Regions from separate parts of the Homo sapiens genome. Here region 1 is linked to region 2. Evidence: fine-mapped expression QTL. A gene starts in region 2. The other region holds a variant in brackets. All regions are shown on one strand. Distances are from middle to middle. Region 1 overlaps RASAL2 (RAS protein activator like 2). Region 2 holds the start of C1orf220 (chromosome 1 putative open reading frame 220).

Evidence for each region. PIP is the estimated chance that this variant, and not a neighbour inherited with it, causes the effect. A credible set is the group of variants that fine-mapping cannot tell apart.
Region 1: its variant is the best candidate, but not a certain one, in a credible set for the expression of C1orf220 in sun-exposed skin (GTEx, PIP 0.67).

The regions. Positions count from the first base shown.
Region 1 is chr1:178,098,362-178,107,117 of GRCh38, reverse strand. The region is part of intron 1 of RASAL2 (RAS protein activator like 2); the gene reads right to left. Among named protein-coding and RNA genes, the nearest start is that of RASAL2, 8.6 kb to the right of the region's middle. The variant T/C (reference allele first, on the strand shown) is at 5,083.
Region 2 is chr1:178,538,048-178,546,803 of GRCh38, reverse strand. It overlaps C1orf220 (chromosome 1 putative open reading frame 220), which reads right to left and starts at 4,008. Exons shown (of 3, transcript NR_033186.1): 1 at 3,919-4,008; 2 at 901-1,591. It overlaps LOC124904460 (a long non-coding RNA gene), which reads left to right and starts at 4,159. Exons shown (of 2, transcript XR_007066748.1): 1 at 4,159-4,770; 2 at 4,978-6,241. RefSeq lists silencers at 3,774-3,843, 3,874-4,203 and an enhancer at 4,254-4,313.

The DNA of each region.
Region 1 (8,756 bases), 440 kb after region 2:
GGAGAAATGACTTATCATGTTTAATAAGTTTGTTGACAGAAAAAAATGCAAGGTTTTTCAAGATTGTAGGGAAAAAGCAACTCTGTAAAAACATATAATTTCATACAATATGCTCACAGGTAAACAGAATAATATTACTGGATATATATGAGGAAATTTATTATGCTAGTTAAGCTACAGGAAAAGAAAGATGATCAGCTAATAGATATTACAAAGTCAAGCCTCTCTCAAGGTGACACTCTGGCATGACAATCTCAGTATAGACCAAAACTACAACCTAAAATGCAAATAACTGAAAATGTTCTCTTAAGCTTATTTTGGTTGAACTTGCAAAAGAATGACTGAAGACTTTCTGACCTGAACAAAACAGGAAGAAATCGACTGTATCTGGGGTATCTTTCTATTTCAATAGAAATCACCATATGATACCATTTTTTCTTAATCATGTTATCAAGCTAGATTCAAAAACAGGAATATAAATTTTATTTTCTATAAAAAGGAAAACCATGAAGTCTTTATAAAACTAGACAACATTAAAAGCAAAGTCATTGTTTTAGACATTACAACATATCTTTCGTTACTTGGTAGCTACTGTACTGACCATCTTATTCAAGGTCCATACGTTGATACAGAGTAATCAGCAACCACTTGGACAAAAAGCAGCCATTTCAAAATAGGAACATGCAACAGAAAGGCCTTGGGTTTCCTCACTCAAGGGCAGTCTTGAAATTTACAAATACACATAAAGTTGTACACAGTCAAGCCTAAGGGAACCATGGAGGGAAATCTAGGAATTGTGGATATGCTATACTTCAGCACAAACTGGAACATGCAAATATAGATTATAGCCAGGCAAAGAGATTTTTTATGCTGTCAGTCACTACCCTGGAGATAGTGTACATGCTATCCTTTTTGGAAAATTATTACATAAAATATGACATTAAAAAAATTTCATTACAAGAACAGAAAAACAAAACAAGAATAATCTTCACCTTGTCAGTGTATCCCTCAGAGCAACAGAGTTATAGATTAACTCCTAACAATAATGTTGTCATCTACAGCGATTTCATGTTTCCATGAACTAAATTAGTAAAATGCTTTAAAACTACAATTGATTTTTACTGAGTTCAAAAAGAAAACGTGGCTGGGTACAGCAGCTCATGCCTATAATCACAGCACTTTGGAAGGCTGGGGCAAGAGGATTGCTTGAGCTTAGAAGTTCAAAACCAGCCTGGGCAACACAGTGAGACCTCGTCTCTACAAAAAGTAAACAAAAAACTAGCTGGGCGCAGTGGTGCACACCTGAAGTAGCACCTACTTGGTGGGAGGATCCCTTGAGCCTGGGAGGTCCAGGCTACAGTGAGCCAAGATAGAGCCACAGCACTCCAGCCTGAGTGACAGAACAAGACTCCGTCTCAAAAAAAAAAAAAAGAACCCCAAAAAACAAAAAGAGAATGTGTCTAGTAATTTCATACACTTCAAAAACTGACAAAAATACTGCCATACTTTCCCACTGTATCATATCCTTCATATGTCTTCATTATTTAGTACTTATTTATGGAGCAAGATATTTGCATATTCTATCCTGCCCGAATTAAACAAATTTTCCTACAAACCTCCAGAGTATTAACTGGATAAGGGATTATTTTTTCATTTCACTTTCAAACTACTTTAAGTCATTGTTAAAAGTTAAAAACAGTTTGTTCTTTTTCTAAGTTTGCTCCTTTCTGGCCTAGCAAGACAAGCTTATGCTTATGTATTACATGCTAAACAGCTAAATGGTAAAAGAAAATTTGGTTAACTTTGTTAACGGTCTATATAAAATATGATTTTTTCCATAGTCTTATTCCTATTCCTGCCATTATTTTTTCTGAAGAAAAGATTTTAAATTACTTTAATCATTAATATTAGTTCTTGTTGCCATTACTTGGATTTGGCTTTGTTTAACATTATGAAAAACTTTCCTCAGAACATACCTAAATTAATCCCATGCTATAAAACTGGGTCATTAACACAGTATTATATAAGACATACAACTCAATCACTCATCCAGGTAAAACTAAATGAAACTATATTCAAATCATGTTCAAAATAACTTTCATGAATGTCAACTCCTTCTAGCTGAGATAAAAGTTACCAACTGTGTGCTTCTTAGAATACCTAAAACATATGTCTGCATCAAGTTATTTCAGTTGGAGGGTCTGACATAATACAAGTAAGGTCACGGTCATGGATTTGACCTTTAGCAGACCAATTGCTTTGAGTCTATACTCCCGCCCTTCCCTCATTCACTTGGAAATATGCCATTAATAAAAAGGAGTACCATTTAAACAACAACTAAGTTTTTGAAGGACAGTCTTAAAGGCATAAAGACTCAAGGCATTTAATATGTGCTAAGTAACGTTTAAGGTATTATATAAAATTTATGTAAAAAGATTTTAATACATTGAAAGTAGCAACACAGCAGTAGAACTTAAAATTATGAGCCATATTTCACATACTAGAGGCAGGAATTACTTTCCAGGAAGGTTTCACCAATTTCGCACTAAATCTCAGGCCTTTAAAAACATTTCATACTCTTCTAGGAATTCAGCATAAGAAAACATTCAGAAGTTTGGATCAAAGATTTGTGCACAAAGACAAATCAGTAAAGTGTTAAACTTTTTGAAAAATGTTAACATCTAAAATAGAATAATGGTTAAATAATGTTAGTCATTAAAAATTGTATTTTCATATTATAAAGTCTCAACAATAAAGCTGTGTGATACTGGCACATGAATATAAACAGACCAATAGAACAGAATAGAAAATCTTGAAATAACCCAAAATATAAATGGCAATCTTGTATAGAATAAAGAAGTCTTCTTAAATCAGTGCGAAAAAGCTGGTTTCTTCAACAAATGATGGTAGGACAACTGGAAAGCCATCTTTCAAAAAATGAAATTGGATCCATATCTCATATTTAATACCAGACTGGATTAAAGATTTGAATGTAAAAAATAAAACCAACGAAGTACTAGATAAACCAAGAGAGAATTATTTCATAACCTCAGAACAGGAAAGCCCACTCTTTTTTTTGTCCCCCAAGGGTATTTAGGTACTTAGTGTATGTAGAGGGGGAAAAAAAAAGAATGGGCTTTCCTATTCTGAGGTTACAAAATAAAGGTCCAGAGAACTCCCAGGAAAGCCCATTCTAACATAAAATACATTCTGACATAAAACCAAAAAGCCATAAAAGAAAAATCCGATACATTCAATTGTGTAAGAATCATTTCTTCATAAGGGTGGGGGGAATACCATAAGAAAAATGAAAATACTGGCAACTGTTGCAGATAAAGGGTTCTTTACTTAAATACTAAGAGTTCCTTAGTATGCTTTGCTTAATATACTAATAGTTCCTACAAATCACTAAGAAAAAGATCCAAGAACCCAATAAAAATGGGCAAAAGGTATGTACAGTTCACAGAAAAGGTTATATTTAAATGACTCTTAAAAATGAAAAGATGTTCAATCACACTTAATGTAAAAGATATTAAAAAAAATTAAATTAAGACACCATTTTTACCTTTCAGATTGTCTGATCCAAAATTTCGTGATAATTCATTATGTGTGGGGAGACAGGCACTCTCATATATTGCGGGCGAAGTACAGACAGGTAGGGCAATTTGGCAATATCTTTCAAAATTACAAATACACGTACCTTTGACCTAGCAATTCTATGTATTTTTCTTACAGATATGCTCATACACAAGCAAAATGGCTTATACTCAAGATCATTCACTGCAAAATCACTTGAACTAGCAAAACTTGGGGAATAATTAAATGAGTTATGATTAATTCAGGCATTATGCAGCCATAAAAAGAATGAGGTACCTCTTTACAAAATGAAAGGAAAATATATCTGAGATACATTAATAAGTGAGGGGCGGGGGGAAGAAAGAAGAAGCAATCTCAAAGTGCAGATAAAAATCAGTTCTAATGGGTTATCATACGTGTAAAAATAGAGAAAAATGCATATATACAGTAAAAACCTATGATATCATTTCAGATATAAAGCAATTTACCGGCTCCAGACCCCCAGAACTCATGGCCAACTTCATTTGCAGGTTTGTTCTGGTCATTTCACTAACCTCACAGAAATATAACCCTGAATTTTTTGTAAACTAGATTTCTTGGATCCCACTTATGGCAGGATTTTTACATATCTATCTATCTCTACATTTGCTTCTATGCACGTGGAATAGGTATGGAAAGATACATAACAATTTCAAGTATTTATTGATTGGGAAGAGGGACCATGCCTGCCAGATGGCAAGTTGTAGAGGCAGGGAGGAAGAGTAAGAGAGAGCTCATGGAATATCTTTTTATACTCTGAATTTTGGAACAAAGGAATATATTACCTATTTTTTAAAATAAATAACATATTTAAAAAAATGTGTTAATGTTTTCAATAACATGAGAAAATACACTTAAGAGAAAAAAAGTAGAATGTAAAATATATGCAGTTTGATACCAAATATGTATTAATACAAAAAAATCTGTACACAAAAAAGACTGGAATAAAACACAATAAAATATTAAAAGAATAATTATCTCAGCCAGGTGTGGTAGCACACTCCTGTAGTCCCAGTTATTCGGGAGGCTGAGGTGGAAGGATCCCCTGAACCCAGGCAATGGATAATATGTAAGCTATGATTGCGCCACTGCACTCCAACCTGGGCATGAGCTATGATTGCGCCACTGCACTCCAACCTTGGCAACAGAATGAGACCCCGTCTCTAAAATATAATATTTAAAAAAAAATGATAGTTATCTCTAAGAGGTAGAATTACAAATGATTTTAATTTTGGCTTTTCCTAAAATTCTAATTCTTTATGTTAAGCACAAATTATATTCATAATCAGAAAAAGGGTATTAATTTTTAATGACAGGAATCAGAGGTTAGAAATTCAAGTGGAAGGTACAAAGTTATTAGGTATTATTCAGGGTTCTAAGCATCATATATGAAATTCAAATTTCCTTCAGACATCACTTCCAATCACAGCACCAAAAAAAGTATGCATAATAAGCTTAGGAAAAATA[T/C]GAAAAAAAAAATCTCATCTGTCCTCTGGTCTATCTCTTAAGGATTACTATGAAATTATTTTCATCCTCCTACTTTATGGATGTTTTGTCCATTTTTGTTTTCTGTTACCTAGGTAATGGTATTTCCAGCATTTCCCTTAAAAGACTGTGAAACTAACAATCTGGTATTTCTCACTGTCGAGTTTTCCTGACCTTCAGCTTTGAGAGGCCATCTCCCTAAGGGAAGGCAGCAAGATCTAGAAGCTAAATCAGGAGGCTAAGGAATCTGAGGTTAAGAGTTCCAATCCTGACAAACTGTGGAGTCTGTCTCCAATTTTGGGAATAAGCTAAACTTCCTGAGCCAGTTTCTTCAATGAGAAAACCTAAAGGATTGCTTTGAAAAATATCAAAAACTATTGACTTTAAGGTTTCATTTTAACTTTTCAGACTACTCTTCCGAATTTTGTTATCTTATCTATGTTGAATGTTTTCCCCTCACTAAATTTTCACTCTCTCAATCAATATCTATAAGTATTACCAATCCCTTAGACTCAGGGATGGAGGTAAGGGGTACTTTTAGAAAGTCTGCTACAAGTGACACAATGTGAATGGAACTCGAGCAATGTTGAAGATAATTTATGGAGGGGTAAAAATACAATCAGGATCTAAACTGAACCCTTATGAGCAAAGCCAACAAAGACAATTAATTGATGTTACTAACACCTGGTAAGGGAAGGTAAAATTCAGACAGCTCATATCTGAACCCAGCTGTAGAGATTAGGAAAGTGATAACTTCTGTATCATAGTCTAGCAAATGAAATGTTTTTATGCCTTTAAGGGTTCAATTTTTATTTCTTTTGTTTACTGTATACTCACTAACACCACTGCACTGGGCCTCAAGACTTCTCTTTTCCCTTCTACTTGTGAACCACATTACTTCTTGATGGGCTGCCCTCTCACTATAAAATAAACTACATGAAATTTGCAAAAGGGTTTTCTACATGCTAGCCTTAAGAAGTACTTGACAGCCTTTGGGAAGAAAGGTGTTTTTACAAACATCAGACAGCAATTATCCCTCTACCAAGATAGGGTGAAGCAATTTTAGCAGTGCCCTTAGCACACTTCAAACTCCTCCTCCTGGTTAACAAGACCAAACAACTCTCTAGTTAGTTAAAAGTTTTTCCAATAGGGAGGGACAAGGGAGCAAACAGCTGAAGTTTTTCTGAATTAACTGTCATTAGTTGAATGCTTTTTTGTGGTTCACCTACTTAAAAGGTGATCAAATCACTTTGTGCTACTGAAGAAAGCAACTGCAAAGAACAATTACATAAACCCTCTATTTCAACTTACCTCATCCTTCCTTCTAATGAAACAAAGGATCCGAAACCACTACCTTGCCACCATTTCCTTAATAATCTTGGTAAAGCCTACTATGTCATGTGAATCTCTTTTCTTTTTCTTAGCAAACCACAGAAATTTCACTCACTATAGTAGGAAACACAACTGTACAACTTTTTTTTTTTTTTTTTATTTGAGACTGAGTCTCGCTCTGTTGCCCAGGCTGGAGTGCAGTGGCACGATCTCAGCTAGCTGCAACCTCTCCCTCCTGGGCTCAAGCGATTCTCGTGCCTCAGCATCCCGAGTAGCTGGGATTACAGATGTGCCACCATGCCCTGCTAATTTTTTTTTTTTTTTGTATTTATAGTAGAGACAAGGTTTCACCATGTTGGCCAGGCTGGTCTCAAACTCCTTACCTCAGGTGATCCGCCCACCTTGGCCTCCTAAAGTGCTGGAATTATGGGCATAAGCCACCGCGCCCGGCCCATTTTTAAAAATGTGTTCAGTAAATGTTATTATCTGAAAAAGATAAAGGATATCCACACAAACTATTCTTAAAGAGGGGTGTTCTAGAACTTTGTATTATTTATGTCTGAAGATTTGTACAGATCCTCAATTCCATATCTGCAATTCCTAAATCAAAAAAGCTCTGAAAAGCAAAAGACTGTATGCAACTTTTCTGGCAGTAAAGTCTGACCTGCACTGACATAAGGCTATTTATAGTCTTTATACCACTTGGTATGATTTTGTTTTTTTTTTGAGATAGTCTCACTCTGTCACCCAGGCTGCAGTGCAACGGTGGAATCACAGCTCACTGCAATCTCCCCCTCCCTGGTTCAAGCGATTCTCCTGCCTCAGCCTCCCAAGTAGCTGGGATTACAGGTGCATGCCACCACACCCGGCTAATTTCTTTGTACTTTAGTAGAAACGGGGTTTCACCATGTTGGCCAGGCTGGTCTTGAACTCCTGACCTCAAGTGATCCACCTGCCTCGGCCTCCCAAAGTGCTGGGATTACAGGCGTGAGCCACCACGCCCGGCCTATTCACTTGTTTAACTGCAGAAATATTAACATAACTGTCTAGTCCAAATGGTTTTGGAAAAGAGATTGTGGATGTATAATTCTATTCCTTAAAAATATTTTCACTGTTTGAAAATCAAATAGCAGTGAACCAACATGATAGAGGGTAGAACAATACTAAGATGTTATAAATGAAACTATCACCTACATTAATAGAGCACACAATTTAAATAAGACATACAAATTTTCTCTCAAAAGAAGAAAAAAGGGGGCTATTTAAAGTCACTTAAACAGTACATGCCTAGGCATTCTTAGAAGTTCTCTCTGATTTCAATGAAAAACTGTCTATTCTTAATGTGTTTTAATGTATTTGGAAATCATTGGAAACTAATACATCAACAAGCCTATGCCACATCCTAAGTATTGAACTCAAGCTTAAGATTCCAAAAATTTCTAAAATATGACTACTCAGGTGTAAAGATTCAATTAACAGTACCTGAGGAAATTAAGACATTTAAGGAACATGAACATGTTTGGGGATGTATTTTATACACACTCACTGATTTTCTTCTAGCCATACTAGTTGCAACATTTTAAATAAATTTAGAGACATAACCTCTAGAAACGTAACTTTTAAAAATCTCATCCTGTGTCTTAATTGGTGAGGCGTAAGCAGTATCATATAATACAACCAGATATGACTTCTGTCTCATCAGCTCATATTCACTTCTTGAATATGAACTTCTATTAATTCTTACCGAATTCCCACTGCCACATTTCTGGAATTATAAGGTACTTAATGAAGTATGATTAATTCCCTTTTTCTTCTGTTTGCTTAAATAGTACTAGCCCTTTGAAATTTTCCAGCAGGTCCCTATGTTGTTATCAATAAACAATGAGCTGTATACAAGCTTAATGGTAATAATGTTGATGCTATTCATTTTCTTAACAGAATATTTTACCTAATTCCTTCTGATAATATTAAAATTTAAAAGTACAAGATTTCTTGTTGATCCCTTTCTTGTGCTGATTATATTTCCCTTCTAACTCTCCAAGAGCATATCTGAGCACATACTTGCAGACCTGTCATACTGATGAGTGCAGAGCTCCACCGCAGGCAATCCTAGAGATTGGGATCTTAAATTTCTCCCAGAGTGTCCTACACTCCCCATCCATTCATGGTAAAGTATTTAATTTTAATGTTCTCATTGTTTACCAGAAAGCACAGACAGTGAGGCTGGCTTTGCCACTCCCGTTTCCTTTCGCTATGCTGCTGAGCTTTTTCAGCCAATTGACTTTGCTTTGAGGCTATAAATATCTGAAAAATGTTCTGCATTT
Region 2 (8,756 bases):
GCTTGATCCAGGGAAGCGGAGGTTGTAGTGAGCTGAGATCATACCATTAGACTCCAGCCTGGGCATCGCAGCGAGACTCCATTGCCAAAAAAAAAAAAAAAAAAAGAAAAATCTCAGATGACATCAGCGAACAGAGAGAGCTGAGATTCTAGTGTTGCTTGTGAGCTTCCCCAGAGGAGGTCGAACCGAAACCAGGTCTCAAATGCAGTAGGGATATCCATCTGCTGTTTTTTAAAAATATTTTTTAAAGTATATTTTTAAAATACAGATAGGGTCTCACTTTGTTCCTCAGGCTGCTGTCAAACTCCTGGCCTCAAGCAATCCTCCGGCCTCCTCCTCCCAAACTGCTGCCATTACAGGGATGAGCCACTGCGCCCAGCCCATTGTAGTTTTTATTAGAATTTATGATAAACTTTTCATTTCATGGCATTGTCAATTATATCAGGTATTTTCTTGGTCATTTTTTATTTTTTTTGTCTGGAAAGCTGCTCTGGGGAGACCTCAGTTTTCTGCCCACCTCCTCTGTGTGTGGCCCTCAAACTAAAGACAAGCCCCTTAAGGATCACCACTCCCATGCCTTGCCCCTACCACGGGTACCTCAACCGCTTCTAAAATTTTTAGATCATCTCTGCTATATTCAACGGCCATGGAAGTTTCAAAAGTTTCCAAAGCAAAATGTTTTGTCTGAAACAAGCTGCTTTGGATTTTGTCTACATGATACAGGCACCTTCCTCTGGGCCCCATAATTGTCTCCTCTGTCACTTGCTTGGTGTTATGACATGTAACAAATCAGAGTGGGAAGGTCTTAGTTTTCTCTTTGTCAGCATTCTGGGATGCCCTGGTGGTAACAGGAAATGCACCCACAGCTCCATGCAGCTCTCTTGTAGGTGCTTTTCTTACCTGTGGGCCAGATCCTGTCCTATGTAATGTTGATGTTTGTAGAGTTTATTTTTTGGTTTAGGGCATGAAATGATAATCGGCTTAAGCAGCACCAGAATTGAAGCAGAGAAGGTGAGGACACAGATTTCTTGGCCCTTTGACGAACAAACTGAAGATCACTGTTCAGTCTTCCCAACTGCAGAAGCTGTGATGTGGCGGAAAGAGCTGGAACCGTGCAGCTGGGCTTGCTCCCCCATGTCCCTCGTCCATCCTTCGTGGCCCACTCACTTGCCAAGAGCTGTTGATGTTGAAGCACCCAGGATATCCAGGAGGCAGCACCACATTCAGCAGGGCATTGTGACTTGGGGCCAAGTCTTTCAGCCTCCCTCAATCTCACTTTCTTTACTTGCAAATAGCAATACCACAGACCCCTCACAGGGATCATGGGAAGGTTAAAGAAGTGGAACTGGTTCAGCTGGAGCTTAGTAAGTAGTCAAAATCAACCTTCAAGAGTCCGTGTCCTGGAGCTCAGCAGCTGTCCTGGGCCTGGAAGACGGGGTGTGCTTCTGCTCTGTCTCCTTCTGTGGTTCTGGGGTGGGGGATCTGCATAGCCTGTGGGGTCCCCAGAGAGCCTGGGGCTGCTGCAGAGCAAGTTCTCTGTTGTTGGCAAATAAAGCCATAGCAGAGATGACTCCAGCAAGTTGAGCACCCTCTGAACAAAGAAGGAAATGTATTATCTCTTTCCTGAGGCCTATTCATATTGGAAAAAACACTACCAGATTTAACTTCAAAATATAATTTTTCCAGCACAGCTGGAATGCACCCCCCGGCCATCCAGAGGCTTCTAAATGCATTGGGAGCTCAGTTACGACGCTCACCAAGTTGTCTCATCTCGCCTGGAACCCACTGGCCCTCACAGAGTTGAGAGAATATTCATTTTCTTGAACTCTTATGAACGACAGTTTCTCGCTTGCCATGATTCTGTGGAACTGGGCATCCGGCATCTCAGAGATGGGAAGTCGGAGAAATTCTGAGCATAGGCTGTATTTGCTGAGAAGATAAAGAGACTACTTTCCATTTCTCACTTCTCTCTCAAAGCGCAAAAACAACGGGCCTGTCTGGCCTAGTCACTGCTTTCTGTCTCTGAAGTGTTCCAGGCGCCAGAACCAGCCTTCCTCCTTATTAACGTTCCATGATGATTCCTTCCAGGTGCTGGGGATCCAGCCCGTGGGGTTATTAGAGGGCAGACACCAACAGGGAAGGTGTTGTTGACTCACCCTCACAAATATCATTCCTTACATTGTCAGGGCAATTACAAAACACGACTTTAAAAATACTATAATAAAATATCCAACTGAAGACTTTCAGTATAATTAATCCGCCAACCTTATATTTTGAGAAGGTTGAGAGCCGTGAGGGAAAATAAACCCTAGAGAAATACATTGTTTTTAAGTTCTTTCAATAAAGACATGTAGGCATTTTCTAATGTTTTTCCCAAAAAGAAAGAACATCTACTCCTCTAATTCCACAAGAGATATAAAGAATTAAAGAAATTGTGATTAACAGCCCTGTGTCTGGAGCTCATGAAGCTCAGAGGATTGGGAATGGAAGTGGCAGGTTTAGGCTTGAATCAGAACTTCTGGATTTAGGAAAACAAAACAGGCCAGGCGCGGTGGCTCACACCTGTAATCCCAGCACTCTGGGAGGCCAAGGCGGGCAGATCAGGAGCTTGAGACCAGCCTGCCCAACGTGAGAAACCCTGTCTCTACTAAGAATAAAAAATTTAGCCAGGCATGGTGGTGGCACGCCTGTTAATCCCCGCTACTTGGGAGATTGAGGCAGGAGAATCGCTTGAACCTGGGAAGCAGAGGTTGCAGTGAGTCGAGATGGCGCCACTGCACTCCAGCCTGGGCCACAGAGCGAGACTCCGTCTCAAACAAACAAACGACAACAACAAAATGCAAACTCTGGCCAGGCGCGGTGGCTCATGCCTGTAATCCCAGCACGTTGGGAGGCCAAGGTGGGCGTATCACTTGAGGTCAGGAGTTCAAGACCAGCCTGGCGAACATGGTGAAACCCCATCTCTACTAAAAATACAAAAATTAGCCAGGTGTGGTGTCATGCACCTGTAGTCCCAGCTACTCAGAAGGCTGAGGCAGGATAATCGCTTGAACCTGGAAGACAGGTTGCGGTGAGCACAGATCGCGCCACTGCACCCCAACCTGAGCGACAGAACAAGACTTCATAAAAAAAAAAAAAACCCCACGCAGATTGCAGATTCCTGGGCCCCATCTTCGCCTTTCTGAATTGCAGCCTTTCACCCTTTAAGAATGAGAGGGTGAAATCTGCACGTCATACAAATAGCCCAGGGGCTATTAATCTGATGTTGCTCCCCAGCTCCCTCCAACACCGTCAGAGGGTGCACGGATTAGGCCTCTGCTGCGTGCAGAGAAGCATCCTAGGTGCTGCGTGGCTGTGCCAAAGCAGCAGAAACCGGTGGTGTGCCTTAAGATGCATGCTCCAAAGCTGTCCACAAGGCCTCTGGTACAGGCTTCCAGGTCTACGTCTCGGCTTCCCCGACAGTGTCCATGCGACACTGTCACCAGTTTCTCCTCTCACAAGCAGAAAATCAAATTCGGATTGGGCAAATGATTCCCTGCCCGGGTGTGGAATAAGGGTCAAGTCCTAAGTATGGAGAGAGAGCGCCGGCTCCCGCCAGGATATGCGAAGCTCTGGAGGGGAGGCCAAGCCACCAGGCACCCGGCGGGAGAAGAGGAGGCTGGAGAGCGCCGCCCAGTGCCTGCAGGCCGGGCGCTCCACGCCTCCCCTCCCTCCTGCACACCCCATTCCCCTCCGGTTGCCCCGCCTGGGAAGCCCCCTCCCCACACCTCCCGGCCCAGCATCTGCACGAGAGCCGCGAGCCCTGGCCCAGAGCTCTGGGTGGGCCTCTCACCCCAGACGGCGGCCGCAGCCCGTCCCTGATCACCGGCCGCCTGAGCCCTCCGTTCGCTCGGCGCGAGCGCCGCCACCCGTCCTTACCCCCATCCAGTCCGAGGCCAGCCCCGTAGGCTCCGAGCCTGCTCCGTGAAAAGCCTTTTCCCCAGGAGGAGAGTTACTGTAAAGCAAGAGGAAGCCGAGAAGAGGCGGTGGCTGCAGCGCGCGGGGCCCGGCGGGGGCGCGGGGGCGTCGGGGTACTGACTGGGCAGCGCGGTTTCCCCTCATCCCGGGACACGGTGCGGCGCTAGCGCCACCCAGCGGGCGCGGTGGGAATTGCGCTCCCTTCCTGCGCTGGGGCTCTGGACACACAGGCGACCAAGAATGACGCCTGCAGCCGGATAAACGCTCGGGGCAAGGCCGCTATCATCCCTCTGCCGGGAGTGAGTCAAGTCTCAGCAAAAGAAGAAGCCACTTTGGCCAAAATTCCAAGAGTGCTGATGAAGACGGTGACATCTGACATTTCAATGGCACTTTCCATTTCCCCCGGGGTGCGCATTCCGGGCCAGTGGAGCGCTGCGTCGCCTGTGCAGGACCTGGAGGTCTGCAGGACTGTGACCAGTCGGAGTCTCGGAGTCGTGGGTTAAACATTAGTCGGGAGCACTCGTTCATTCCCTGAGCTCCCCTTGCCCTTCACCCTTCGGTCCCGGAAGCCGGAAGGGAGACTGCCCCGCCCCTTGCCTGCCGCCCAGTGGCTCTCCCGGGGCCCTCTTGGCCCCTCTCTCCCAGCCCTCCATACAGTGAAGGGTTGTTTCCGCTGGTGACTTCCACCTGTGGGAGCAGAGAAAGGAAGCGGGGCAGAGGAGAAGGGGAAGGTGTCAGGCGATTCCCCTCCTTGCGCTGCAAGCCGGGTGGGAATAGAACACCTGCAGCCCTCCCCGGCGCCCTGCGAATGAGGTGGGAGTGGGAACGCCATCAGGGCAGAGCCCCTCCAGCTGGCTGGGGTCTGCACCTCCTCGCCAGCCCGGCCACCTCAAAACGGTGCTTGCCTCCCTGCGGGGGTGTAGAAGCCTCTTGGAGCAGCACTTGTAGAAAATCAAGTCCCTGGAAAGAAGCAAAATTAATCCGTTTGTTTCTCTATTTATTTTTGCTTCCCCACACCAGGTATTCACTTCATCCAAGGCTGCCCAATGTCACCTTCCACCCAGAGGAATCTCCCCTCTCCACCCCAGGCCAACAGCCTCTGCCTTCAGCTGTGGCCTCCACTCTGGCATTACTCTGGGCAGAGGGCTCAGGAGGGCTCAAGGAGGACCAGTGACATTCAGAGTGGCCAGAGTAAAGGGAGGGAGGGGGAGTGGTGGGAGAGGCGTGCAGAAGGCACAGGTGAGGTGGCGGAGGGGGGCAGGTGGTGGGGGGAGCGGGCTGGGGTGGGATGGGCCTGTCAGCATAGCAAGGGCTGTGATGGGCTTGAGTCTGACAGGGGGCAATGACCTGACCTACGGTTTTGTAAGATCACTCTGGCTGCCACCTGGAGAGCTGGTGTGGGGATGATGGCCATGGTAGACACAAGGGGAGCAGTTAGGAGACCACCACAAGTGACCATGCGGCCCAGGCGAGTAGGGTAGCAACAGAGATGGGGAGAGGAGGTCAGATTTGTGATCTGTATCTGAAGGTGGAATGGACAGGAATTGCTGATGAGCTTGGGTGTGGTGCATGAGGGAAAGAGAGAAATAAGCATCATTCTTAGGATTTGTCCTGAGCAACTGGAAGAAAAAGAATGACAGTGGCTAATACGGTTAGCCAGGCGCTCCTCTAAACCCTTCACATAGTTTAACCTGTCTAGATTTCATAACACTCCTATGAATTAGGAATTAGTTCTTCCCACATTTTACAGAAGAGGCAATCGAGGCCCAGAGAGTTGAATCAGTTTGCATAAAGTCCCACCATTAGCAAATGGAAAAGCTGGAATTTGGACCCAGCACTTCACCACTGCACACTTCCCCGGCTTTACAGAAAGAGAAATGCCGTGAACTGAGCTAGATGAGCCCGGGGGAGGAATGGGGTTTTTCCGTGGGGGTGTGAATCAAGAGTTCTAGTTGGAATGAATTCAGGCTGAGGTGCCTTTTAAACATCCAAGTAGAGATATTTAGCTCAGCAGATGGATGTATGACTCAGGCCCTGGGTGGCAAGGAGGAGCATCTGGGGCTGGCGTGTTAAGCATGGAGAGGAGACAGGAGAAGAGGGCAGAAGGCTGGGAAGTGGGATTAAATGCTGCATGTGAACGGATGAGGACAGAAATGGATACTTTAGAGCATCCTGTCAAGCCTTGGGGTGTCGGGTGATGAGTGTGTTTAGGAAATATTATTCTAGAGCAGTGCTTGTTTTTGTTTGAGGATTCAATAAAGGCTGTCACCTTGTTCCAGAAAAAGTACATGAACACACACGCAACATTTTGCATACAATTTCAGGGTGTCCGTGGGTCCCCAGAGGACATGCATGGGCCATTCTATTTCTATCAAACCTTACTTCATCCACCAGCCACAATCAAATTTCACTGTATCTCTCAAGTCCTGACCAGACCTCTGATGCAGTCACCCCACCCTCTCTGTCTGCATGAGATAGGAGCTGCACTCCTCTGAATCGAGACGGTTTTGAATTGAGACGGTTTTGAATGTCTATGTAGAATGCAGCTCGCCCTGCAGGTATTGCCTGTGTACATGTCTCATTTGGAAATGGTTCCCCTGAGGAATGAGAGGATGAACCCACAGAGTCTTTTGCTCTCTTATTCACCTGGGAGGTGATGTTATTCATCTATTTCCTAGATTTATTTGTTTTTTTGGTGTTTTTTGTTTTTGTTTTCGTTTTGAGATGGACTCTTTCTCTGTCGCCCAGGCTGGAATGCAATGGCGTGATCTCAACTCACTGCAACCTCTGCCTCCCGGGTTCAAGCGATTCTCCTGCCTCAGCCTTCTGAGTAGCTGGGATTACAGGTGTGCACCACCACACCTGGCTAATTTTTGTATTTTTAGTGGAGACCGGGTTTCACCATGTTGGCCAGCCTGGTCTCGAACTCCTGACCTCAAGTGATCCACCCTCCTCAGCCCCCTATAGTGCTGGGATTACAGGCATGAGCCACCATGCCTGGCCTTATTTCCTAGGTTTAAAGACAAAACTAGCTCGTTCTATTGTTTCCATCGACACAATTGCTTCCCCAATATATAATGGGCATTTGTTGCTATTGTTCTGTTTGTTTTGGCGGTCCAGCTTCCAGCATCCATTCTATTTGGGAGGATTCCCCGGTGACTCTTGGCAGGAATCCATCAGCCCCTCTGGAAATGGAAGGAATGGAAGGAACCAGGTGTCCCTCTTGTCCCCCACCCCTGCAGAGGTCACAGCCTTCCTATCCTGCCCAGCCCAGTGGGGCTTTGAAGGCTAGGGTGCAGGAACAGAAGAGAACTTATTTTTGGCCATGGCAGCTAGGCCAGGAGACCATCTGTGAGAGTAGCATCCTGTGTCCTGTGGCAGCAGTCCCGGCCACGGTATCCTCACCACAGCCTGGCCACAGCTTGGCCTCGCCTGCATCTCCTGCTGCCAGCCGCCTTGATACCTGCCCATTTTCCCCATGCGGTTCTCCAGCCTTCCGACTGATAAGTTCTGCACATATTTCCCCATGTCCATTGCCTGCACGAGTCAGCCAGGTCAGCTCTGTCGCTTCCACCAAGACCTCTCACTGCAGTGGCTGTGCTGAGCTTGCAGCTGACGTCTGCTCTACAGTGTCAGCACTTGGGATTCTTCTTCTGTTGGGGGTCCCTGAAGGTGGGATTCCTGGCCTGTCGAAGCATTGCTGTGTGACACATGCCAGATCCTTGCGGTTGCCTGTGAAGCTCGGAGCCCTCCATATCGAGGGAGGAAGGCTTTCCTTCCAGCAAAGTCTTGTGGCTTTCAGCGAGAGCGACTATGCAGCAGCCAGACCAACTACAGAGGTCACAACAACAACCCCTGTCCCGATGACAATCCTGTGATTTTCCTGGCTCAAAATGAAGTTTGACAAGTCTTGTTTTATACTCTTGTCATCACTGGGATTTCTTCTGACTTTACAAGACCAACAGGAATTGGAGTCAGACTCACAGGGGAGCCTGAGAGCCTCTCTATCCCACACCGCTGTGGGAGCCACGCCCAGGTGGGGCCAGGGCTGCAGAGGGGGAAGCTGGGAATGGCTGGGCAAGGATAGAGGCAGCTCAGCTTCCCCTAAGCCTGGGGTGGCCTGAGGGGCCCCCTGCACTATGCTGGAACGTACCTTCCTTTCCAAGGAAGGAAAACAGCAGCTTCTGACTCATGACTGTGTCCTCCTGCAGACAAGTACACAGCTCATCCCCTCAGAGTGTCTGAGTGCTGAGCTCACATCTCATGGTGGGGTGTTGCGGCCATGTCGCTGCCCCATCCCACGGGCATGGTGAGGATTCTGTTACTGCACACTCTTTAGGGTCCTTTATAGTTAATAAAATATTGAACCACTTCCATACTGGTTGGTAAACAGCTGCTGCCCTGAGCTGCCCCCACCTCCGACCCAGTGGCCACCTGCCCATCATTCTCCTGGTCCTTTCCCAGGACTGGCCAGGTGTCCCCACAACCTAGCAGCTAAGGGTCCTACCTGGCACAGATTCTGGTGGGTCAGGGCCCATGGTTAAGTATTTGGGGGTATCACCCCACCCACGAGTGTTCTCAGCACGCACTCACTCCTGCCTCTTCTCTGGTCCCCACACACTCAGCCACCCTGTCCCACCTCTTCTCACCACCAAATTAATATGCTCATCCTTCTCACCTCATCCTAGCCCCACCTCCTTCAAGAATCAGTCCTGAGTCCATAGCCCCTGCATCTCCCCCTCACACCCAGAGCACTCCGCCTCCTACAGATAGCGCTTCCCAAATACGTCTCTCTCAAA